Linked DNA regions of Homo sapiens: regions 1 and 3 are each reported to be linked to region 2. The links are microRNA targets in miRTarBase. Many come from high-throughput screens and were not tested one by one. Region 2 holds a microRNA gene; each other region holds the end of a gene's coding sequence.
The links. Region 2 holds the annotated microRNA hsa-miR-4706 (AGCGGGGAGGAAGUGGGCGCUGCUU, at 2,903-2,927, shown strand). A microRNA usually pairs through its seed, bases 2 to 8, with sites in the 3' UTR of a target mRNA and lowers its output. Matches are read on the target gene's strand: a 7mer-m8 pairs with bases 2 to 8, a 7mer-A1 pairs with bases 2 to 7 and ends in A, and an 8mer does both.

Region 1: the mRNA of GNAI2 is a reported target of hsa-miR-4706. Seed matches in the 3' UTR shown: 7mer-m8 at 5,010-5,016.
Region 3: miRTarBase lists TMEM184B as a target of hsa-miR-4706. Seed matches in the 3' UTR shown: 7mer-m8 at 1,444-1,450.

What each region holds. Positions count from the first base shown.
Region 1 is chr3:50,256,256-50,263,443 of GRCh38, reverse strand. GNAI2 (G protein subunit alpha i2) reads right to left here. Exons shown (of 9, transcript NM_002070.4): 5 at 7,124-7,188; 6 at 6,592-6,721; 7 at 6,354-6,507; 8 at 5,730-5,944; 9 at 4,082-5,076. The coding sequence ends at 5,754. It overlaps LINC03143 (long intergenic non-protein coding RNA 3143), which reads right to left and starts at 3,218. Exons shown (of 1, transcript NR_198941.1): 1 at 86-3,218. It also overlaps a transcript of SEMA3B not described here. RefSeq lists enhancers at 1,711-2,215, 2,738-2,837, 2,723-3,228 and silencers at 3,008-3,427, 6,208-6,257.
Region 2 is chr14:65,041,795-65,048,982 of GRCh38, forward strand. MIR4706 (microRNA 4706) reads left to right here and starts at 2,894; the gene lies at 2,894-2,975. CHURC1-FNTB (CHURC1-FNTB readthrough) reads left to right here. Exons shown (of 14, transcript NM_001202559.1): 11 at 2,517-2,649. FNTB (farnesyltransferase, CAAX box, subunit beta) reads left to right here. Exons shown (of 12, transcript NM_002028.4): 9 at 2,517-2,649. It also overlaps a transcript of MAX not described here.
Region 3 is chr22:38,215,366-38,222,553 of GRCh38, reverse strand. It overlaps TMEM184B (transmembrane protein 184B), which reads left to right. Exons shown (of 9, transcript NM_012264.5): 9 at 844-3,263. The coding sequence ends at 1,085. MAFF (MAF bZIP transcription factor F) reads right to left here. Exons shown (of 3, transcript NM_012323.4): 3 at 6,047-7,188. Among named protein-coding and RNA genes, the nearest start is that of SNORA92, 5.8 kb to the left of the region's middle. RefSeq lists enhancers at 3,025-3,876, 3,149-4,348.

The DNA.
Region 1 (7,188 bases), not on the chromosome of region 2:
CACAGCAGCCTTGACCTCCAGAACTCAAGTGATCCCCCCACCTCAGCCTCCCGAGGAGCTGGGACTCCAGGCACACACCACAACACACAGTTAATTTTTGTATTTTTTGTAAAAATGGAGGTCTCACTATGTTGCCCAGGCTGATCTTGAACTCCTGGGTTCAAGTTATCCTCCTCCTGCCTCAGCCTCCCAAAGTGTTGGAATTATAGGCCTGAGCTACCACACCGAGGCCACAGGACCACTCTGAAGCTTGGTGTAGCTTCCAGTACTCCACCTGCCCCATTTCTGGGATGCATTAGCTCTTTTGTTGCCAAGACTTTGCTTGCGCTGTGCCCTCCACCCTTTAGACCCTTCCCCTTGTCACCTGCTGGACTTCTCACCGTTCATGATCCACCTTGGCTGTCACCCGTCTTCTGTGTAATTCCAGACCCCTGTGGTGCCAGGTTCAAGCCTCTGGGCAGGGCTCTGTGTTCCCCACTGTGGGGGAAGCAGCAAGGGCTATAATCACTGGAGAACCCAGGACCCAGCAGAGGACAGGCACAGGGAGGCGGGAGATGGTGTGCCCGCAGGAAGCCCTTCCACCTTCCTAGGCATGCTGAGTCTCCACGGGGTTGGAAGACGGATGGAGAAAGGACACCCCTTAACCCTGTCCCAGTCCCCCAGGCCTTGATGACCCTGACCTCAGTAAGGTCAGAAAGCAGAAGGCAGTGGGATGAGATGTCAAACTCTGATTTTTCTCCCAGCCAAGATCACCAGGGACTGTGGGGCTGCATCTCTGGCAAGGGGAGAAAAGGACCCATGGCCTTGACTTCTGCTCCTCTTGGATATTAGTGCCCATCACCGTGTGACTGAGGGCTGAGTGGCTTGCAGGCATGGACATATTTGCTGCCACACAGCTGCATACATACCCCAGCTGACTGGAGGCCATCCCCCTGGGTGATGAGAGGTGCTGCCTTCCCTCTGGTAGTCCATGGTAGAGATGAGGACCGCTAGGATCTTTTGTTTTTAAGAGACGGGGTCTTGCTATGTTGCCCAGGCTGGTCTCAAACTTTTGGCCTCAAGTGATCCTCCTGCCTTGGCCTCCAAAAGTGCTGGGATTAAGGCATGAGCCACTACATCCAGTCAGGGTCTCCTTTTATTTATTTTTTTGAGATGGAGTCTCGCTCAGCCACCTAGGCTAGAGTGCAGTGGCACAATCTTGGCTCACTGCAACCACCGTCTCCTGGGTTCAAGTGATTCTCCTGTTTCAGCCTCCTGAGTAGCTGGGATTACAGGCACCCGTCATCATGCCCAGCTAATTTTTGTATTTTAGTAGAGACGGGGTTTCACCATGTTGGCCAGGCTGGTCTTGAACTCCTGATCTCAAGTGATCCGCCCACCTTGGCCTCCCAAAGTGCTAGGATTACAGGCGTGAGCCACCACACCCAGCCCCAGGGTCTCTTTTTAGGGCAGCAGACACAGAGATTGGGGTCAGTTTTGGGGAGTGGGGCCAGACCCAGAACTCAGCCAAACAATACTGTAGTCTTGTCCTTGCCTCCTCCCTGACTCCCTGACTCCTAGGGTTGCTAGGACTTGGCTGGCTATGCCACTGACCAGGCAGCTGGAGTCAGGGCTTGTATTCTCTACTCAACTGGTTTGCCACTCAGTTTGGGTGGGGTGGGGTGAAATGATTCTGGGGAACTGAGAGGACTAAGTTTTCCTGACATCAGAAGCCATGGGGCTCCCTGGAACATGGGACTTCTTCCAGGCCTTGGCAGCCCCTGCAGCCTCGGTGATCCCTGCTGTAACCCTGGAGAGGGCCCTTTCCCCCTTCTGCACCTGGCATCTAGGTCTGCACCTACCTGCTGGGACAGGGGGTGGTACAGGGGGGGTGTCTAGGCCTGGGGAACTACCGAGGCAGCCTGCCTGGCTCCTCCTCACTGAGTTTCCCTCTACTCTCCTCTCTCAGGCCTCTCTGACTCTGAAAGCTTGCCTCTCTCTTCCTAGCTGCTCCCCCACCCCCCAAATGGGTTAAAAATACCAAAGTTCCCACCACATCAGTAGCCGGAGCAATTATTTCAAGTGGGCCAGGCCCTCTGGGAGGCAGATCAACTTCATGGCAGTCTCCACAGGCTGGAGACAACTCACCCCACGCTGGGAGCATGAGCCTGGGTCCCTGCCCAGCTCTGCATGTCCTGCTAAGGGTCCTGGGCCTCACAGCTGCAGTTCTCCATGCGTGGAGACAGAAAGATGGGGCTTCTTAGGCTGGGAGGGCTCTGGGGATGCAGCGCCAGGGAGCATTGAATTTCTGGTGCTCCTCACCCAACTGCTCCTGAGGGTTGATGAATGGTTGAGGTCCAGCCTGGGACAGCTCCAGGCAGCAGGGGATGCCCAGGAACCAACCTCATGGAGTCCCTTCAGTTGGGGTGCAGGACACCTGGGCAGCCCCTTCCTGCCTGCAGCCCCCCATGGCTGGGAATTTCCCAACCACCAAACACAAGGCTGAATTGACAGGCCGCCTCCACCAGTGCTGGGACAATGGAGCCTTATGCCCTGGAAATCTGAGCCTGGGTGGGAGGCCGGGGCAGGTGGAGGCCTAGCTGTCTGCACTCAGGGAAGCCCTGCCCCCAGGATCCCACCCAGACCCACTGCCAAGACGGCACCAGGGCAATCCTGTCAAGGCCCCGCATGGCCCACCCAGGGAGGGAGGCACTGGGTGAGTTAGGCAGACAATGCCAGGCCCTCAATGGTCCCTCTGTGCAGGGTTCCCCCTCAGGACAGAAGGAAGGAACCATCTCCCGCCCGCTTCCTGCTGGGCGGGCATCGGGGCTCTGGCGCTCCTGCTCGCACATCTGCGGCTCAGCGGGGTCCAGGCCTGGGCCTCTGAAAGAAGGCGGGGACCTGGGTTGGGCGCAGGATCCTGTTCTCCGTGTCGTCGGCCCTCGCAGGCAGGGGCAGCAGGAAAGGCCCGAGGAACTGGGGCGGGGACCGGGCCTGGGGGGCGCCGATGTCCTTCCGACCGGGCGGCAGCAGCCTTTCATCTCCTGCCAGTGCCGGCGGCCGAAGCTACGGGGCACTGGCAGGTGTGCGGGGACGGGGTCCCGGGTCTCTGGCTCAACCCTCCAACCCTCCCTCCCTCCCCGCCTCCGCGGCGCCGACCCCGGCCCGCCCTCTGCCCAGGCCGCTCTGTCCTGGGGCGGCCGCGGAGCCGTCGCCGCCTCACAAAGCTGCCTTTGTGTCCAGCGGCCTCCGCGGGACCCGCTGACGTCAGCCTCTGTGACCAGCCAGGCAGGGCAGAGCACGGGCGGCGGCGCCCCCTGGCGGCCGGAGGCGGATGCGCCAACGCCGGAGCCCCACCCAGTCGAGGCCAGCCTTTCCGCGAGCCCGCCCCCACACGTTCAGGCCGCGGCTGCCCCCGGGAGAAGGTCCAGGCGCCTCGATGGCACTCAGGGCCCGCCCCACAAGCATCACCAGCCTTGCCATCTGCAATTCCCTTCCCCAGAAACGCGCGGGCCCTTCCCACAGCCTCATGGAGCCTTCCATCTTCAGAGTCAATGATCTGCAGCTCTCCAGGCCCAGCCTGGGGCAACCATCACATGGTAGTATGGCCACCTGTCACTACCCTTCAGGTTTGGCGGCGGCCCTCTGGGGCAGGGAACTTTCTGAATATGTCTTAAGGCCCCTACTGGCCTTTTTAGTCAAGCCAGGACTGCATGCGGCCCACCTGGCTGTGTGGCCTTGGCAACGGACACTCTCAGGCCTTGGTACCTAAGTCGGAAGTCACTTTCTCCTTCCGCGCTAGAGAGGCCGGCCACCCCTCCTGCTCCAGGTGTGGAAGAGCACCTTACAACAGCTCCCTTAGAAGCCTGCCCAGCTGCCCGAGACCCAAGGCTGCAGAGTACTGGAAGGGCGGGGACACACGGGCCCCACATGTATGCTGCCTAGTCCAGGTGGGAGAAATGAAGCTCAGAGCGTGGGGCTCCAGGACGGCCCGGAAAGCTGAGTCAGGGCCCTGACTCAGGTTGAGGACTGAGGTTAGGACCACCATCACCTTGGCACACCTTAGCCCAGGCCTCTGCCCCTGGGAGAGAATACCCATCAGTTCTCGGTATTTTTTTTCTTTCTACATTTTATTATTTCAAACCAGGTGAACAATTCCATAAAACATGTGAAAAAAGCAAGGAAGTGTTCAACGCTGAAGGCCCCGGGCCTGGGACAAGGGCATGAGGGGCGTGGCCCCCCAGCAGGCAGCGGCGGTTCCTAGGTTAGCGCTAGGGAGCTACATTTTAGGTTAATAGAGCCTGGGGCCAGGGCCGCTGGGGCAGGGCCCTCAGTGACGTTGGCAGTTGTCTGGAACAGCCCTTGGAACCCAATTCTGTGGAGGGCAGGGCAGGGGTGCCGCTCGCACGGGGGCGGCCAGCAGAGGGACGGGTGTAAACACGCAGACACACTCAAGGCACGGAGTCACTTGGAAGGGGGGCTGGGGGGGGGCTTGCTGGTCAGGATCTGACAGTTTTAAATAGTTTTTCTCTAAAAAGTTTTCTAGATTTGCAGTTTTTTTTTTTTCCTTTACTTTCATTTTTTTAAAAAGCTACGAGAATGAGCAGGTGGACTGTGGTTTCCAGGAATGGTGGCGTCTCACGCTTCTTGTGCTTTTTCCTTTGGGGCCTCCGAGCGGCTGGGGTTGGGGGACTGGGCAGGAGGCTCCCTGTAAACATTTGGACTTGGGCTGGGGCAGGGGCTGGTGTTGGGCAAAGCTGGGGGTCCAGGCTGGAGAAGCAGGGGCCCCTCCAGACGCAGCCTTGGGAGACTCAGCATGTGCCCCCCTCCCCTCATCACAGAACAAGACAATGGTTAAAAACCAGAACAGATGCCCAGAAGGGGGTACCATGGCCATTACCAGCATCTCAGACAAGGGCAGGCTTCAAACAGGGAGGCCTGTGGCAACCCCTCCCCTACGTCTGGAGCTGAGGGGACAGGGGGAGCTGAGAACAAAGAGAGGAAAGAGGAGAAAAGCGGCGGGGGAACAGGCGGGGAGCGTGATCTTCTTGCCCCCATCTTCCTCAGGGGTTGGGGGGTACAAAGTCGGCGGTGGCCCTGGAGGTGGGGGAAAGCAGAGCATGGATCGGGAAGCAGCCAGGGCGTGCCTCTCTCCCGCCTCCCTAGACAATGACCCTTCTCTATTTTTCCTACCCATTTGTTACCAGGGACACAGTTGCCGCCCAGGAGCCAGTTTCTGTTGCTGGGTTACGTGGGGGAGGGGAGTCTGTGGCACTGGGAGAGTCATCCCCACCTCCACCAGGGCCAGTGGGGCCAGCCTAAGCCCGGGACGCTCAGACAAGTCAGAGGGCAAGAGCTGGAGGTGCACATGGAGCTGGTGGTAGTGGGCAGCAGGGCTGGGCTCCGCTGGCATGCAGCTTCCGGCAGGCTGGGCCAATGGCCTGGTGGGTGAGGAGGTGAGATTTCTCCAGGGAACATCAGGATGGCCTCTGGTTCTGTCCCAGGGCAAGGCCAGGCCCTTCTGTCTGGACCACTGGGCCAGGCCTGCTTGTATGACCTCCTCCATGCCCTGCACCTCACTCACTTGACCTCCTGATTCACACCCTGGGCCTTCTCCTCCCTTGTCCCCTGGTCACCTATTGCCCCTCCCCCTCCAGGTTCACCCCCCTACCCACCCCCAGAACCCCCTGCTGGGGCTCCAGGCCCGCTTAGTTCTTCCCCAGCACCCTGCCACAGCCCCTCTGGCTCACCATCCCGCCAGGCCCCGCTGCCCCTCAGAAGAGGCCGCAGTCCTTCAGGTTGTTCTTGATGATGACATCGGTGACGGCGTCAAACACGAACTGCACGTTCTTGGTGTCGGTGGCGCACGTGAAGTGCGTGTAGATCTCCTTGGTGTCTTTGCGCTTATTCAGGTCCTCAAACTTACTCTGGATGTAGCTGGCTGCCTCATCATATTTGTTGGCCCCTGGGGGAGAGAAAATGAAGACTTGTGCTGCATGTGTGGCAGGCAGGCCGCATCCTACGTGTGCAGCAAGGGTCTGTGCGTGTGGACGGCCAGGCATACAACCTGTGCATGCATGTGCATAATATGACAATGTTTGTGGCTGCCCATACATGCCAGATGTGCAAAGGGGTACCCCACTGTGTGAAGGAGGATGCCCATGTACACATGTTCAGGGGTACATGCTTGAGTGTGTTAAGGGCTTCATGTGTGCACACACAACTATACAAGCCTAAGTGAGGCACCAGCCCCTGCCAGTGTTCCAAGGTTACACTTCTGTCCAGTGGGGGGCGCCTGAGGGCCACCTGGTCACCATAGGCTACTTGGGACAAGAAGCAACCCTCTGGAGGCCCTATCCCCACAGTCCCCACACCTGTGTACTCAGGGAAGCAGATGGTCAGGGGACTGTGTGTGATCTTCTCCTCAAACAGGTCCTTCTTGTTGAGGAAGAGGATGATGGACGTGTCTGTGAACCACTTGTTGTTGCAGATGCTATCGAATAGCTTCATGCTCTCATGCATGCGGTTCTGGGGGTAGAATAGCAAGGTCAACGCTAGCCACCACTCCCCAAGCCCGCTGCCCCCACCCGCAGCATTCTCTCATCCTCTCACCATCTCCTCGTCCTCAGCTAGCACCAAGTCATAGGCGCTCAAGGCTACGCAGAAGATGATGGCTGTGACGCCCTCAAAGCAGTGGATCCACTTCTTCCGCTCAGACCGCTGACCACCCACATCAAACATCCTGCAGATATAGATCACCTTAGTTCCAGGAAGGGAGCCTGGGGGAGGCTTTCTACCCCATTTCTCAGGTTGGCTGACTGAGGACAGAGGCCTGCCCAGAGTAGGGCAGCTACCTTCTGGAATCATCCACACTTGCCCACTTCACCCCTGGTTCTGGGCCAGGAGCTTGGACAGCAGGCAGGCTGCAGCCACATCAGGCAGGAGCAGCAGAGGCTGTGAGCAGCTGGCAGAGGTGGCGTGGATCCTGACTGCTGGTTCACTAGGTGGTGAGGATGTGCTTGCCCAGAACACATGAGCCTTGTAAAACCTCAGTGGGGCTGGGGGATCCTGGACCAGCCCCTGCCTCTGCTACCCCAGAGGCTGGCAGGTCCTGCCCCTCCCACCTGTCCACATGCTCGCTCACTTGAAGTGTAGGTCCTTGAAGGTGAAGTGTGTCTCCACGATCCCCGTGGTCTTTACGCGGGTCCG
Region 2 (7,188 bases):
GCTGAACTTAAGAGTTTCTCAGATGTTTTAAAATCTGAACACCAATAAGGCATGAAACAAAAAAGTCCCATCTCCCAGGCAGAGATAAGGAATGTGATTAGGGAGTGCCTCAGTTATAAAGACAGTGTTCTAGATTTGAACCCTGTCCCTACTACATTTGAGACATGAGTCCTTGGGCAAATTGTCTAATCTCTTTTAGCTTGATATTTTTTTCTTTTATAAGGTAGGGATAACAATCCTTATTTTTTTAAGGTTAAAGGAGAGAACATTTATAAACAGCCTGGCACATAGTAGGTACTTAATAAATGTTAGTGTCCCTCTAACCCACAGTAATAATCTTTTTGGCACAAGGGACCAGTTTTGTGGGAGATAATTTTTCCGTGGACCTGGGGTTGGGGGTGGGACGGGGGGTGATGGCTTCAGGATGATTCAAGTACATTACATTTATTGTGTACTTTATTTCTATTATTACACTGTAATATATAATGAAATAATTATACAACTCACCATAATGTAGAATCAGTGAGAGCCCTGAGCTTGTTTTCTTTCAACTAGACAGTCCCATTTGGGGGTGATGGGAGACAGTGACAGATCATCAGGCATTAGACTCTCATGTAGAGCGTGCAACCTAGAAGCCTGGCATACACGGTTCACAGTAGGGTTTGCGCTCCTATGAGAATCTAATGCTGCTGCTGATCTGTCAGGAAGTGGAGCTCAGGCAGTAATGGGAGCAGTGAGGAGCAGCTGTAAATACAGATTAAGCTTCACTGGCTCACCCACCACTCATGTCCTGCTGTGCAGCCTGGCATGGTCTGGGGGTTAGGGACCCCTGCTCTAATCCAGACTACTCCCTTCCATTTGCTTTGGGAGAAGTAGGACCCATATCTGAAGTATGAATTCCTATAGCCCAAGGAAACAGAACAAATCCATGGGCTTAGGCACTGGAAAAAGTAAATTAGTCTGCTTAAAAACACTTAAGCCCTGCGGTAAGTAGAAATGAGGAACCGACTCCCACTGCAGCGCCTGCTTTCTCTCTGCCTGAGTAATGCTTAGCCCACTTCCATTACATGCTGGAAGCCCTGGTTCATTTAAGATCAACCGAGGATATATTAGTACCTGAACCTGCAGTACAGTGTTTTCTGTCTCTTTTAAGCATTTGTGACTGTGACTCTCTATGGGCAGGTGTTGCCTTGAAGAGGGAATAATCTAAACAACAGCTTTTAGGGGAGGGCTGGCCCCCACTTCCATCAAGGGTCCCAGTGGCTCCTTTCAGGACCTTTACCTAGTAAGACTCTAGAAACAGGAAGTACCCTCCCCTGTACCCTTTCAGTTGAGTGAGGCAGCTCTGTAAGTCCGTGGCTGGAACGGCCTAGGTGGTCTAGGGAGGGAAATGGAAATGTCATATCTGCTCAGCCAGTTGGTTCTGCTCATTCTGAGGGACCAAACCCATGACTATCTTGATCTTTGTAGTAGAGTGTGTTTAGAAAACTTGTAGATAAGCAAGGAATGGTGGTATCGTGTGTGACCGCTGAGTGACATCAAGACCAAGACCTATTTTACAGCTTCAAAGTAAAAGATTTTCTTATATCAGCCACAGACTGGGCAGAGTTGTCATTTGGTAATTAGAATGAATGGCTTCTGCTTTCAGGCCTGCTAGTGACTTGCTAAGAGACCTTGGGTAAATTTCCCCAGGTGCCAAGTAAAAGTCAGGAGCAGTTTGAGATCATCTGATGAAATGTAGTACCAGGCCGGGCACGGTGGCTCACGCCTGTAATCCCAGCACTTTGGGAGGCCGAGGCGGGTGGATCATGAGGTCAGGAGATCGAGACCATCCTGGCTAACAAGGTGAAACCCCGTCTCTACTAAAAATACAAAAAATTAGCCGGGCGCGGTGGCGGGCGCCTGTGGTCCCAGCTACTCGGGAGGCTGAGGCAGGAGAATGGCGTGAACCCGGGAAGCGGAGCTTGCAGTGAGCCGAGATTGCGCCACTGCAGTCCGCAGTCCGGCCTGGGCGACAGAGCGAGACTCCGTCTCAAAAAAAAAAAAAAAAAAAAAAAAAAAAAAAAGAAATGTAGTACCAAATTCCATTTATCTGCTTTTAATAAACTCCCCGGAGCAGGGAAGTAATGAGAAATGAGCTACTGGTAGTCTTGCCTTCAATTTCCAACTTAAGCCATGTTTATTAAGAGACTTTGAAGGTCTCCTTACAAACCAGCTTGGCCTCTTTATCTTCTCAGCACTGGCACTGCTTTGGAACCCAGGAAAAGGTAGTTGTCTGCCAGGCATTGAGCAGAGATCAGTGCTGGATGCCTCTACAGCGTTGGCTTAAATGCTTCACTCTGTGTCTATGGCAGTGTGGGGAGGGAAGGAAAGAAAACCAGAGCACCAAAACTAGAGTGCCAAGAAGCCACAAGATGGGAAACCCTCCATCCCACAGATTGACTCCTGGAGATTCTGTCGGGCTGGATTTTGTCTCTTTTAGCCTACAACTGCCTTTCCCATCTGTGTCTCCTCAGCAATGGGTGACAAGCCGGCAGATGCGATTTGAAGGAGGATTTCAGGGCCGCTGCAACAAGCTGGTGGATGGCTGCTACTCCTTCTGGCAGGCGGGGCTCCTGCCCCTGCTCCACCGCGCACTGCACGCCCAAGGTGAGCCTGGGGAGCTGTTCACTTGGGGCTGGATGATTTCCCTCCACTACTCACAAAGTCTGGAAGCCCAGCGTGCTTTTTTAGAGGGGTTGAAATGAGCTCTGTCTATCCTGGATTTTGAGTGCCCAGTGTGGAACCTCATGCCGTGGGGCATGCGAATGCAGAGTAAGATTTAGTTTCATTGGTTTAGTGTCATTCTTTGCTTCTTCAAATTGGCTGCGACAGAATGAGCTTCCTTGAAATTGCTACGGGGAGCGGGGAGGAAGTGGGCGCTGCTTCTGCGTTATCTGGAAGGAGCAGCCCACTCCTGTCCTGGGCTCTGTGGTGATTGCCACCTCCTCTGGGTGCAGGGCAGAGCTGAAAACCCTCAGTGTTGCAACAGTCACTGTTGCAACAGCAACAGGAAAGGCAACTGCGTAAAGGGGTAGAGAACCAGAACCCATGTGTAGGGGTGGGTTGTAGGGGTGGGTTGCCCCTACACCATGGAGAAGAGACTCGCCGTGTCTGACTGGCTGCAGAGTTGTCACTATTAGAAATGTTTTATTTTACATTCATTGAATAAGCCTAAATGGGAGTTTGTTCCACCTGCACCATTGGAGTAGAGAAATCCACGTTCGTTTCTGTGGGGTCTCAAATGGGAACGCAAAACCGAAGTAGTTAGTGAGCAAAAAGTCTGGGAACATTCTCTCTCTATCTCTTGAAACCTCAGTCTGCCTGCTAACTCCTGCACCATCTTTCTGGTGTACTTGATGTGAGAGCAGGTGTCTCTGAGTAGACCTGTGGGAGAGAGGAAGTCATGGGGCCCTGCTGGTTGCTGATCTGTTTTTGGAATGAGATCCCTGGGTCCAAAGAGAAGCTGTTCTTCGGACTTAGTTGGATAATGTAACTGCTCAAATGTAAAAGATGAGATTCTTTTCTGCCCCTCCCCATACTTTTTTTTCCTGTTTCTGAGCCCCCCACCCCCCGTCTTCCCCCCTCCCCGCCGCCCCCGAGATGGAGTCGTGCTCTGTCTCCCAGGCTGGAGTGCAGTGGCACGATCTTGGCTCACTGCAGCCTCCACCTCCCAGGTTCAAGCAATTCTCCTGCCTCAGCCTCCTGAGTAGCTGGGACTACAGGCGCGTGCCACCACACCTGGCTAATTTTTGTATTTTTAGTAGAGACAGGGTTTCACCATGTTGGACAGGCTGTTCTTGAACTCCTTACCTCAGGTGATCCGCCCACTTCGGCCTCCCAAAGTGCTGGGATTATAGGCGTGAGCCACCGCACCCGGCCCTGAGCCTCATTATTTAGTTTCTTAATTTCCTTTGAGTTGTTGAGTTGTGACCATTTCTGACACTGAATTAAAGTAAGCAGAGCCTCTGTCCCATTTTCCCGGCCTGGGCCCACTGGGCTTTAGGTGTCAGTATTAAGGCATATAAGGCACTTACCCTTGGAACACAGCAAGTGCACTGTCAGCAAGTGCACTGACTTTGGAGCCTGCACAGTCTCTGCCTTGACCACCAGTAGGGAAGTCAGGAATTCCCCAAGTCAAACATTTTTTATTTTAGTATTATTTTTTTTTGAGACGGAGTTTCACTCTTGTTGCCCAGGCCGGAGTGCAATGGATCACTGCAACCTCTGCCCCCTGGGTTCAAGTAATTCTCCTGCCTTAGCCTCCTAAATAGCTGGGATTATAGGCATGCACCACCACGCCCAGCCAATTTTGTATTTTTAGTAGAGACAGGGTTTCTCCATGTTGGTCAGGCTGGTCTCGAACTCCTGACCTCAGGTGATCTGTCCGCCTTGGCCTCCCAAAGTGCTGGGATTACAGGCGTGAGCCACCGTGCCTGGCCCAACATTTCTAAGATAGAAAAAAACTTGGGGTCATGGTGATCTCTTTATTTGGAACTGGTGAGGTCAAGCCCCTGGTAAAATGGTCAGTCTTTTACAAACCTGTCCCTGGCATGGATAAGACTCAGTAATTCTGCAATCCCAGGGAAATGTGGAATGAGCTATAACAGGAGCACCACCTGTCAAAGTCTTCCAGGGGGGCTGCTGGTTAATTGTTTCTTGTAGCACATGTTCTAGGGGGCTTAGTGGCATTCAAAGCTTTGTCTATGGAAAAGGGTGCCTATGAATCTTGGTGCTTCCAGCTTTTTTCATTGGCTGGGAGAAGGCCTGTGTTGTCTTCTCAGACACAGGGCATCTCTTGAACTTGGAACAGACAGGAGTCTGTAAAGAAGGGAAGTGTGTTGAAAGGAGGGCAAAATACTGACTTTGGGAGTCAAAAGGGGATGCAGTGTAGAAAGATAGTCACAATATATTGTGATCATATCAAAGCAATATGTGTGGAATCCCATTTTTAGTGAAGAGTTGACTACAAAAAATTCATAGAAAGTATCTAGGATGTGAAGTTACAGGTGATGTTTGCTTCTGTTTGTATTTTCTAATCTTTCTATAGTTAATAGGTATTTCTTGCATAAAAAAAGACAACAAAAGTTATTTTACAGAAACAGGGAAATTCTACAAACAAAACAAGCAAAAAGGTGCGAAAAATATTTATAACAAGTGATGAATGGCTAATTTCTTTAATTTGAAAAAAAATCATACAAACCAGTAAGAAATGGATGGACAACCCAACTGAAAAACAGGCAAAGGATCTGAAGAAAGAGGTCCCAGTGAAAGAACTGTCCTTCTTACTTTTTCTACTACAACTGCCACTACTACTGGTAGCGGAGTCTTCCCAAGCCCTCACTGTATGCCAGGGGCTGTACTGAGCATTTCACATATGTTTTCTCATTTAATTCTCAAAACAACCCTATGAAATAGGTACCATTGTTTACAGATGAGGAAACAAACTACAGTGAGGTTAAGTGATTGCTTTATAATACCTGATTGGCACTCACAAGGGTTAGTATGTGGTTGTGTGAATCCAGACTAGCTGGCATCTGAACCCTGCCCTGCTCATAACCACAGTAGGTGGCCATTAATCCAACGAAAAATTGTTTAGCTCACTTGTAGTAAAAGAAATGCTAATCAAAAGAGTGGCACTATTTGTTTTTATTATTGGATTGGCAGAGATTAAAAAACTTGATACCCTATGTTGGGGAGAGTGTGAGAAAACAGGTAATTTGATAGTGGGGATGTAAATAGGTTAAGTCATTTTTTGGAGGGCAGTTTGGAGACATCCATTTAAATTATAAGGGCACTTACCCTTTGAACACAGCAAGTGCACTGTCAGGAATTTACCTGCAGGGATATTAGCAAAGGATGTATATTGAAGTGGAGTTTCAATAGCAGCCTAAGTGCCTATCAAAAGGTTAAGGGTTAAATAATAAAAATCTCTCCAAACAGTAGCTGCATACCATGGGCTGATATAGAAAGCTCTGCAAGATACAACATGAAGTGTAAGGGGGCGGGGCCTGGAGCAGTGCCTGGGCACACAGCCCGAGATGTACACAGCTTTTCCTGGAACCCTACACAAAACCCCTTGAACAATGGGTACCTTTGGGAGAAGAGAAGCAGACAGAAGACAGAAGGAGGGAGACTTTTTAGATTTTTTTTTTTTTTTTTTTTTTTTTTTGAGACAGAGTCTCACTCTGTTGCTGAGGCTGGAGTGCAGTGGTGCAATCTCGGCTCACTGTAGCCTCCTCGGTTCAATTGATTTTCTTGCCTCAGCCTCCTGTGTAGCTGGGATTACAGGCGTGTACCACCACACCCAGCCAATGTTTTCTATTTTTAGTAGAGACAGGATATGACTATGTTGGCCTGGCTGGTCTCAAACTCCTGGCCTCAAGTGATCCACCTTCCTTGGCCACACAAAGTGCTGAGATTACAGGCGTGAGCCACCATACCTGGCCAACTTTTTAGATTTTCTATCCTTCTGTATTATACTGTGCCTTTAAAAAAAAAAAAACCATGTGCATTACTAATTTTATTTTGGTAAATGTACAAATACATTTTTTAAAAGGCATTGATCATATTGCTAACTAAAAAGCAAAAAGAATGCTCTACATAGTGCAGCACGTGGGTCTAGGCCATGCCCTGACCCAGCAAGTGACCATCAGTGGCTCCATGCCATTGACTACCTTCTATGTGTAAATGACAGTATTTGAGTAGAAGAAGGAATTACTATTAGTACCTTAAAATGCTGGACATGGTGGTTCATGACCATAATCCCAGCACTTTGGGAGGCCAAAGCAGGAGGACCTCTTGAGCTCAGGAGTTCAAGACCAGCCTGGGCAATATAGTGAGAGCTTGTCTCTACAAAAAATTAAAAACAGTTAACCAGACATGGTGGCACATGCCTGTAGTCCTAGCTACTCAGGAGGCTGAGGTAGAAGGATCACTTGAGTCTGGGAGGCAGAGGTTGCAGGCAGAGAGTGCCACTGCAACTCCAGCCTGAGCGACAGAGCAAGACTTTGTCTCAAAAAAACACAAAAGCCTGTAATCCCAGCATTTTGGGAGGCCGAGGTGGGTGGATCATGAGCTCAGGAGTTCAAGACCAGCCTGGCCAACATGGTGAAACCCCATCTCTACTAAAGATACAAAAAATTAGCC
Region 3 (7,188 bases), not on the chromosome of region 2:
TGTCCTCATCTCCTCCCCACCGGCACCCCCTGGGTGGGAGCGCCCAGAGCACCTGTCAAGGGCCACCCTCTGTAGAGCTTGCCTGCTTCCGTCCTCGTTTCTCGTTCTGGAATATGCCCCGCCTTCTTCTGGGGGCACAGTGCTGTTCATGGGATATCGGGGCATTTCACGATGTTTCCAAGAGTTCACAAGCTGAGTCAGGAATCCTGGGTTCCAGGGGTGGGCTCGTCCCTTACATCCAGGTGTCCTGGGCCACCTTTCTGCTCTGAGCCCCTGAGGATGGGGACAGTTGATTAGAGAGATGAGGAGGAAGCCCTCTTAGAGGGAGCCAGTGAGTCGCATCTGCTCCCCTGGGGGTGCAGGCCAGCCTGGTCCTGATCTCCAGAGTAGAGGGAGCACAGCACTTCCCCCGGTGGTGGGGGACGCGCCTGGCACCTGTGGAACCGGGCACCCCTGGCTTCCAGGCCCTCTGGCCCCACATGCCCCAACTTCAGTCAGTGCTGAGCCTGCTCTGGCCTCTCTGGGGCATTCTAGGCTCACTGCCCATAGCTTGCCAGTCTCCACCCTGGGTCCCTTCCCTGCAGCCAGCCCAGCTCCCAGTGGGGGTTTATGTCTGCTCCTCTTCACAGTCCAGCCTCCCCTTGGGGCTCCCCAGCCAAAGAAGTCCATTTTTTCCTGCCCCTTCTCATATCCTGGACCCCATTCTCTGTCCCAGAAGGGATGGTTGAAGGGCATAGCTTTGGGTTGGGGGGTGTCTGTCCCAGGATCACGGGCAGGGGCTGAGCCACCTCCCTCTCACCGTCCCAGCCTCCTCACCTGCCCCTCCCGCTCCCTGCCCGGCAGGCCGCTGTGCCCCCATGAAGAGCATCTCCAGCAGCCTCAAGGAGACCATGAACCCGCACGACATCGTGCAGGACGCCATCCACAACTTCTCACCTGCCTACCAGCAGTACACGCAGCAGTCCACCCTGGAGCCTGGGCCCACCTGGCGTGGTGGCGCCCACGGCCTCTCCCGCTCCCACAGCCTCAGTGGCGCCCGCGACAACGAGAAGACTCTCCTGCTCAGCTCTGATGATGAATTCTAGGTGCGGGCTGCAGTGGCGGAAGTGCTGGCGCCATAGCCACGGTCAGGCTGTGCCCCACCTCCAGCCTCACCACCAGGCCAGGAGGCAGCTGGCACAGTGCTCACGCCGCCTTTATTTATTGGACCAGAAACACTCACATGTCACTTCCAGAGGAACGGGGGACAGCCAGGCTCGCCCATGGGCCTTCAGGAATATTTATACATGGCCCAGCCTGCACTGCCCGGGCGAGGGCAGAGGACACTGGGAGCAAGGCTTATGCCCCTGCTGCCCGTCCTGTGCTGGGGGCATGCTGGGACCAGCCGCACCCAGGCCCCAATGCTTGTGTGTGGACCAGCGGCTGCAGCCTTCTAGCCCCTCCTCCCCGCGAGACTCTCAGGCTGAGGTCGGCAAGCCGTGGCTCCCCCACACACCGTGCAATACCCTGTCTGACCTGGGCTCTTCCCGCCTGCATCCCTCCCCTGTCCACCTTTGTCCAGTGCTAGATTCACCTCACCCCGGGCAGGAGTGGGGATGTGGGCGCTCTGTGGTCCTCCCCTCCTGACCCAGGCCTCTGTGGCATGCTGCAAGGATCAGAGCCAGACACCAGGAGTCACAGGCCCCACCCAGGAAGGGCATTCAGGGCCCCTGGGCACCGCTTCTGTTGAAGCAGGGGCTTCTGGGCCCCTGGGTATCCCCACCTGTCGTGGCCACACCTCTGCCTGCCTCATGCCCCTTCCCCCTGGCCTACCAAGGACAGCCCACAGCCCGCACTGCCGGCTCACTTGGGTCCTTCCTCGATAGCTTTGGGCAGAGCCCTTGCTTCCTGGCTGCTTCAGGGCTCAGGGGCTCCCAGCCCTCCTTCCCAGGCTGATGCTGGGTCCTCTCTCTCTTTGGGGCTTCTCCCTCCCGTTTCAGGGGAAAGGTCTGAGTCTCCACGTTTCAGACCAGCTTCTGGGGGAAGGCAGTCCGGCAGGGAGACCGGGAGGGGTGGCCACACAGTGGGGAGCTGGGAGGTGGGGGGAATGGTCCCAGACTCCTCTCGGGGCCCCTATCCACACAGGGCCTGGTGTTCTACCCCATCTGGCCCCTGGCCCATCTCTTCTGTGCCTTAGTCACATATGAAAGCGCCCCTCCCTGGCTCCCCATCTGTCCCACACGCTCCCTGGGGCTCTTAGTTCAGCTGCTGGCACTCGCAGGATCCTGCAGTGCTGGGCCCAGAGCCCTTGGACAGGCCTCAGGAGTGGTCAGGACCACCAAGCCCCTCCTCTCCCCCTCCACACCTCTAGACCTGGGGCCTCCGGAACCCCCAGCAGGCTGGGCTTATACTAGCTCCTGACTTAGGAAGAGCCTCGTGTCACAACACGTGTCCCTACAGGCAAAGTGTCCTGGCATTTAAAACCCAGATTATCCCTGGGTTTGGGCTGCAGTCACCTGGAGAAGCTGGTAGGGTAAGGGAGAGGGACCCTGCCGGTGTTCACTGGGGATTCTTTCTTTTGGTCCTTCCTGGAATGAACAGGTTCCCTCCCTGCCACCTGTGAGGAGAGTTGGGGCCCAGCCGTCTTCCTGGCCTCCTTCCTTTCCTCGTGGCAGAGGCCTGCATGTGGGTGCCAGAGGCCAGCTCTCCCCCTCCATCTTGGGGGGGCGGAGCAGTTGGGCCCAAGCTGCCCGGGAGGGTGGGTGCAGACACAGGCTGAGGACCAGCCCTGGCCCTGCCCCGCCATCTGCTTTCACCAAGCTGTCTCTCCACCGTGGCTTCCCTTCTCCCTCCAGGCCAAAGTGCTGCTGATTCCCACTCCCTTGGTTTTCGCCTGCCCAGCGTTGCTGTTTGCGTGGAGGGTGGGGGGAGCTCAGTGGCAGGGAATCAGCGGTCCGTGGGGTCGTGGGGACGGGAACATGTGCCCGACCGCTCCATCCCCTCCTCCTCCTTAGGATGCATAACCTACCTTGTCTTTTTTTTTTTTAATTTTCTTTCCAGGTAGAGTAGCTCTTTGTACATAAAGAATACTTGAAAAATTAATTGTATGATGTATGAGAAGACAGAGTCTCCTAGTTTTGTATCTTGTTGTATGACTGCCATGAGTTCCACCAGAAAGCCACTCTATTTTGGTCTCTGTGACATTTTAAATGCGTGACAGAAGTGAGCAAATAAAGTGAGGAAGAAATCTATATATGAGATAATATAGATTGTATTGAAATCTCTGCCTGTGGGTGAGGTTTTTCCTTCCTCCTCCCTGCCCCCTGCTCTGGCTTTGGGGTGGGTGGAGTGGCTGTGGGTACAGGCGGCTTAGGAAACCCTCTCCTTCCTGTGTGTAACCTTTCAGTGATGGGGGTTCGGATTGATAGGGACCAAGGTCAAGGCCCAGGCCCCCCTTGGACAAAGGGTCTCCCCAACCTCCAGCCAGTTCCCAACCCAGGACGGCCGGGCCGCAGGCGGTCGATGCTCCTTCCCTGTTTGGTCAACCAGGTCCATGGGGCCCACATGCTGGCAGCCCCGCTCCTGCAGGCATCTCCCAGGATTTCCTGGGATCCCCCTTTCAGACGAGCTTCCTGCGTCTCTGGGACTGTCCTCCACCCTGGGACCCTCAGGGCCAGGGACCCTGGGGCAGGGGGCCGCTGGCTGTGGGCACAGTGCCTGGCCTCTCTGGTACCGCATGCCTTCTTGGGGCCTGGCTTGCTGCTGACGGGAGCACTCAGGAATGCGGTGTGGGTGGGGGAATTCCCACCAGCCTCCCGAGGCGGGTAAATAGCCTGCGTCCTCCCGCAGCTTCCTGCTGCCCTTCCCGCAGGCCTGAGCTCAGCATTTCAGGGTCATGGGCTTGGCAGGGAAAGCACCGAGCCCCAACCTGAGAAGGGGAGAAAGCCCCGTGGACACGGCCTACCTACGTGATCTGGCCCTTTCCCGGACTCAAATCCTGCACCTTCGCCCAACTGGTCCCTTACCCCGCGGGCCCCATACCCAGCCAGCCCCATACCCAGCCATAGAGTTGGCCTCACCTCGGTCTGTGCCACTGTAAATGTGTGTTCGGAGTGTTAAAACCTGCAGCCCCACAGGTCTCCAGGGTTTTTCGCACGTAATGCCCCATAGCATCTTCATTTTACAGATGGTAAACTGAGACTGTAAGAAACCAAATAAGTACCAAAGATCCCACAGCTAAGAACAGACACCTAGATTCAAACCCCAATTGCCGTGACCCACAGACCACAGTATACTCCACTCCTTCTTCAGGGTGCCCCAGAAGGGCTGGCAGATTGGGTTGAAATTAGTGAGTTTGAGGCCTAGGACAAGACACAGGGTTATGGTTTAGGCCTGCAGGTGGGGGCTGGGAAAGCCACTCTCCCTGCCTCCCTGGGCATTCCGAAACATGGGGAAGATAGTTTCCACTTGGCTGTAGAAAATCAGATCTCAATGTGAAAGTGCTGGAAAAATTACTCTGAAATCTGGGTTTTTTCCTCTCTGGGTGGGACTGTCTGTTCACTAAAGGGATGCCCAGGGAATTTAACCCTAAATTTCTTCTTCTTTTGAGACAGGGTCTGTGTCACCTAGATTGTGCAGTGGTGCAATCATAGCTCACTGCAGCCTCAAACTCCTGGGCTCAACCACACCACCATGACTGGCTAATTGTTTTCTTTTCTTTTCTTTTCTTTTTTTTTTTTTTTTTGAGATGGAGTCTTGCTCTGTCACCCAGGCTGGAGTGCAGTGGCGCGATCTCAGCTTACTGCAACCTCTGCTTCCCGGGTTTAAGCGATTCTCTCTTGTCTCAACCTCCTGAGTAGCCAGGACTACAGACATGCGCCACCACACTCAGCTATGTTTTTCTGTTTTTTGTTTTGTTTTTCTTTTTTTTTTTGAGACGGAGTCTCACTCTGTCGCCCAGGCTGGAGTCCAGTGGCGCGATCTCAGCTCACTGCAAGCTCCGCCTCCCGGCTTCACACCATTCTCCTGCCTCAGCCTCCCGAGTAGCTGGGACTACAGGCGCCCGCCACCATGCCCGGCTAATTTTTTTTGTATTTTTAGTAGAGACGGGGTTTCACCGTGTTAGCCAGGATGGTCTCGATCTCCTGACCTCGTGATCTGCCTGCCTCAGCCTCCCAAAGTGCTGGGATTACAGGCATGAGCCACCGCACCCGGGCCATGTTTTTTTTTTGTTGTTGTTGTTTTTTGTATTTTTAGTAGAGACGGGGTTTCACCGTGTTAGCCAGGATGGTCTCGATCTCCTGACCTCGTGATCCGCCTGCCTCAGCCTCCCAAAGTGCTGGGATTACAGGCGTGAGCCACCGCACCCGGGCCATGTTTTTTTTTTGTTGTTGTTGTTTTTTGTATTTTTAGTAGAGACGGGGTTTCACCATGTTGGTCAGGCTGGTCTTGAACTCCTGACCTCAAATGATCCACCCGCCTCAGCCTCCCAAAGTGCTGGGATTACAGGTGTGAGCCACTGCGCCCGGCCTGTTTTCTTACTTTTAAATTTCTTGTAGAGATGGGGGTCTTGCTATGTTGCCCAGCCTGGTCTCAAACTCCTGGCCTCAAGTGATCCTCCCACCTCAGCCTCTTCAGTAGCTGGAACAATAGGCATGTGTACCACCACATGTGGCTAATTATTTTTTATTTTTTGTAGAGATGGGGTGTCACTATGTTGCCCGGGTTGCTCTTGGACTCCTAGTCTCAGATGATCCTCTTGCTTCAGCCTCCCAAAGTGCTGGGATTACAGGTGTGAGCCACCATGCTCCGCCAGAATCCAGTCCTAAATTTCATTGTGCCCATGGCTTTGTCTTCCCAGGAGCTCCTGTGCTCTAAGCAACCAAGAGGAAGCATCGAAGTTTCAGCATCACTGGTCTCTGTCGCCATCTCCCCTCCACCTCATACCCTGTGCAATAGCTGGTGATGTGCACTAGCCCTCCCCGCCACCAGAAGCCCTAAGGGGTTGAAAGCAGAACCCCATTTTAGACACCCCTCGCCAAAAAACATAGTCCAGGATACACATTTATTCTCTGTGGAAAAAGAAAGAATTTGACTTTATTTAGAAAGTCTACAAAATACAGAAGACGATAACTCGCTTGCTGTAAGTCAGGAAATAAATAAATTCTAGGAGCCGGGCAATATTTTTTAACTTTTTTTTTGAGACAGGATTTTGCTATGTTGCCCAGGCTGGAGTGCAGTGGTGCGATCTCAGCTCACTACAACCTCTGCCTTCTGGGCTTAAGTGATCCTCCTGCCTCAGCCTCCCAAGTAGCTGGGACTACAGGCATGAGCCACCATGCATGGCTAATTTTTGTATTTTTTGTAGAGATGGGGTTTCACCATGTTGTCCAGGCTGGTCTCAAACTCCTGGACTCAAGCGATCCCCCTCCTTGGACTCCCAAAGTGCTGGGATTACAGATGTGAGCCACCGCGCCCGGCTTAAACATTTTTTGTTGTTGCTCTCCGGCTTTCCCTAAATATAAGATAAAATGTGATTTATTTGCAGATATAAAATATAAAGCCCAGCTCAGGGCCATACGCCACTTTTCCCAGGGAGCAGGAGCTCGGGCTCTGGCTGGGGAGAATAACTTAGATCCGTGCAATAAATAAACAGTGGGGAGGGGCAGTGTGGACAGTGTTGGGGGAGGGACTGAGACTGGGCTTCCCAGGAGAATGACAATCAAAGGCAGGGGTCAGCCCCCACCCCACAGTGGACACTGACAGGGGTTGAGGTGGGACCCTTCTTCTTAGGACCCCACTCCAGACTGTAGTAGGACTGCAGGGTCTGTCTCCTTGTCTCCCTATTTGCCACAGCAGTCCATGGCCCCCTTTCTCTGACTGGCCAGCCCCCGGACACCCTGGCTGCAGGGACAGCCTAGGGCTGAGCCAGGCCAGCTCCTTCCCACTCTTCCATCCGTGTCACCTTCTCTCTCCCTCTGCTTCTCTCCCCCTCCCTTGCAGAGAGCGGTCTCCCAAGCCAGGGAGGCCCTCCCACCACATTTCTGAGTCCCTGTCCACTGTCCCCCTGAAAACCATGGCTGGACTCAGGGCAGCAGTGAGGACACCCAGGTTTTGGTCCCAACACAACCACTAAGTGAAATGTGACCTCAGGCCTGTTTCCCCATCCGTGAACTGGGTTTCACTAGTCTTCCCACCCACTCTTTTAGT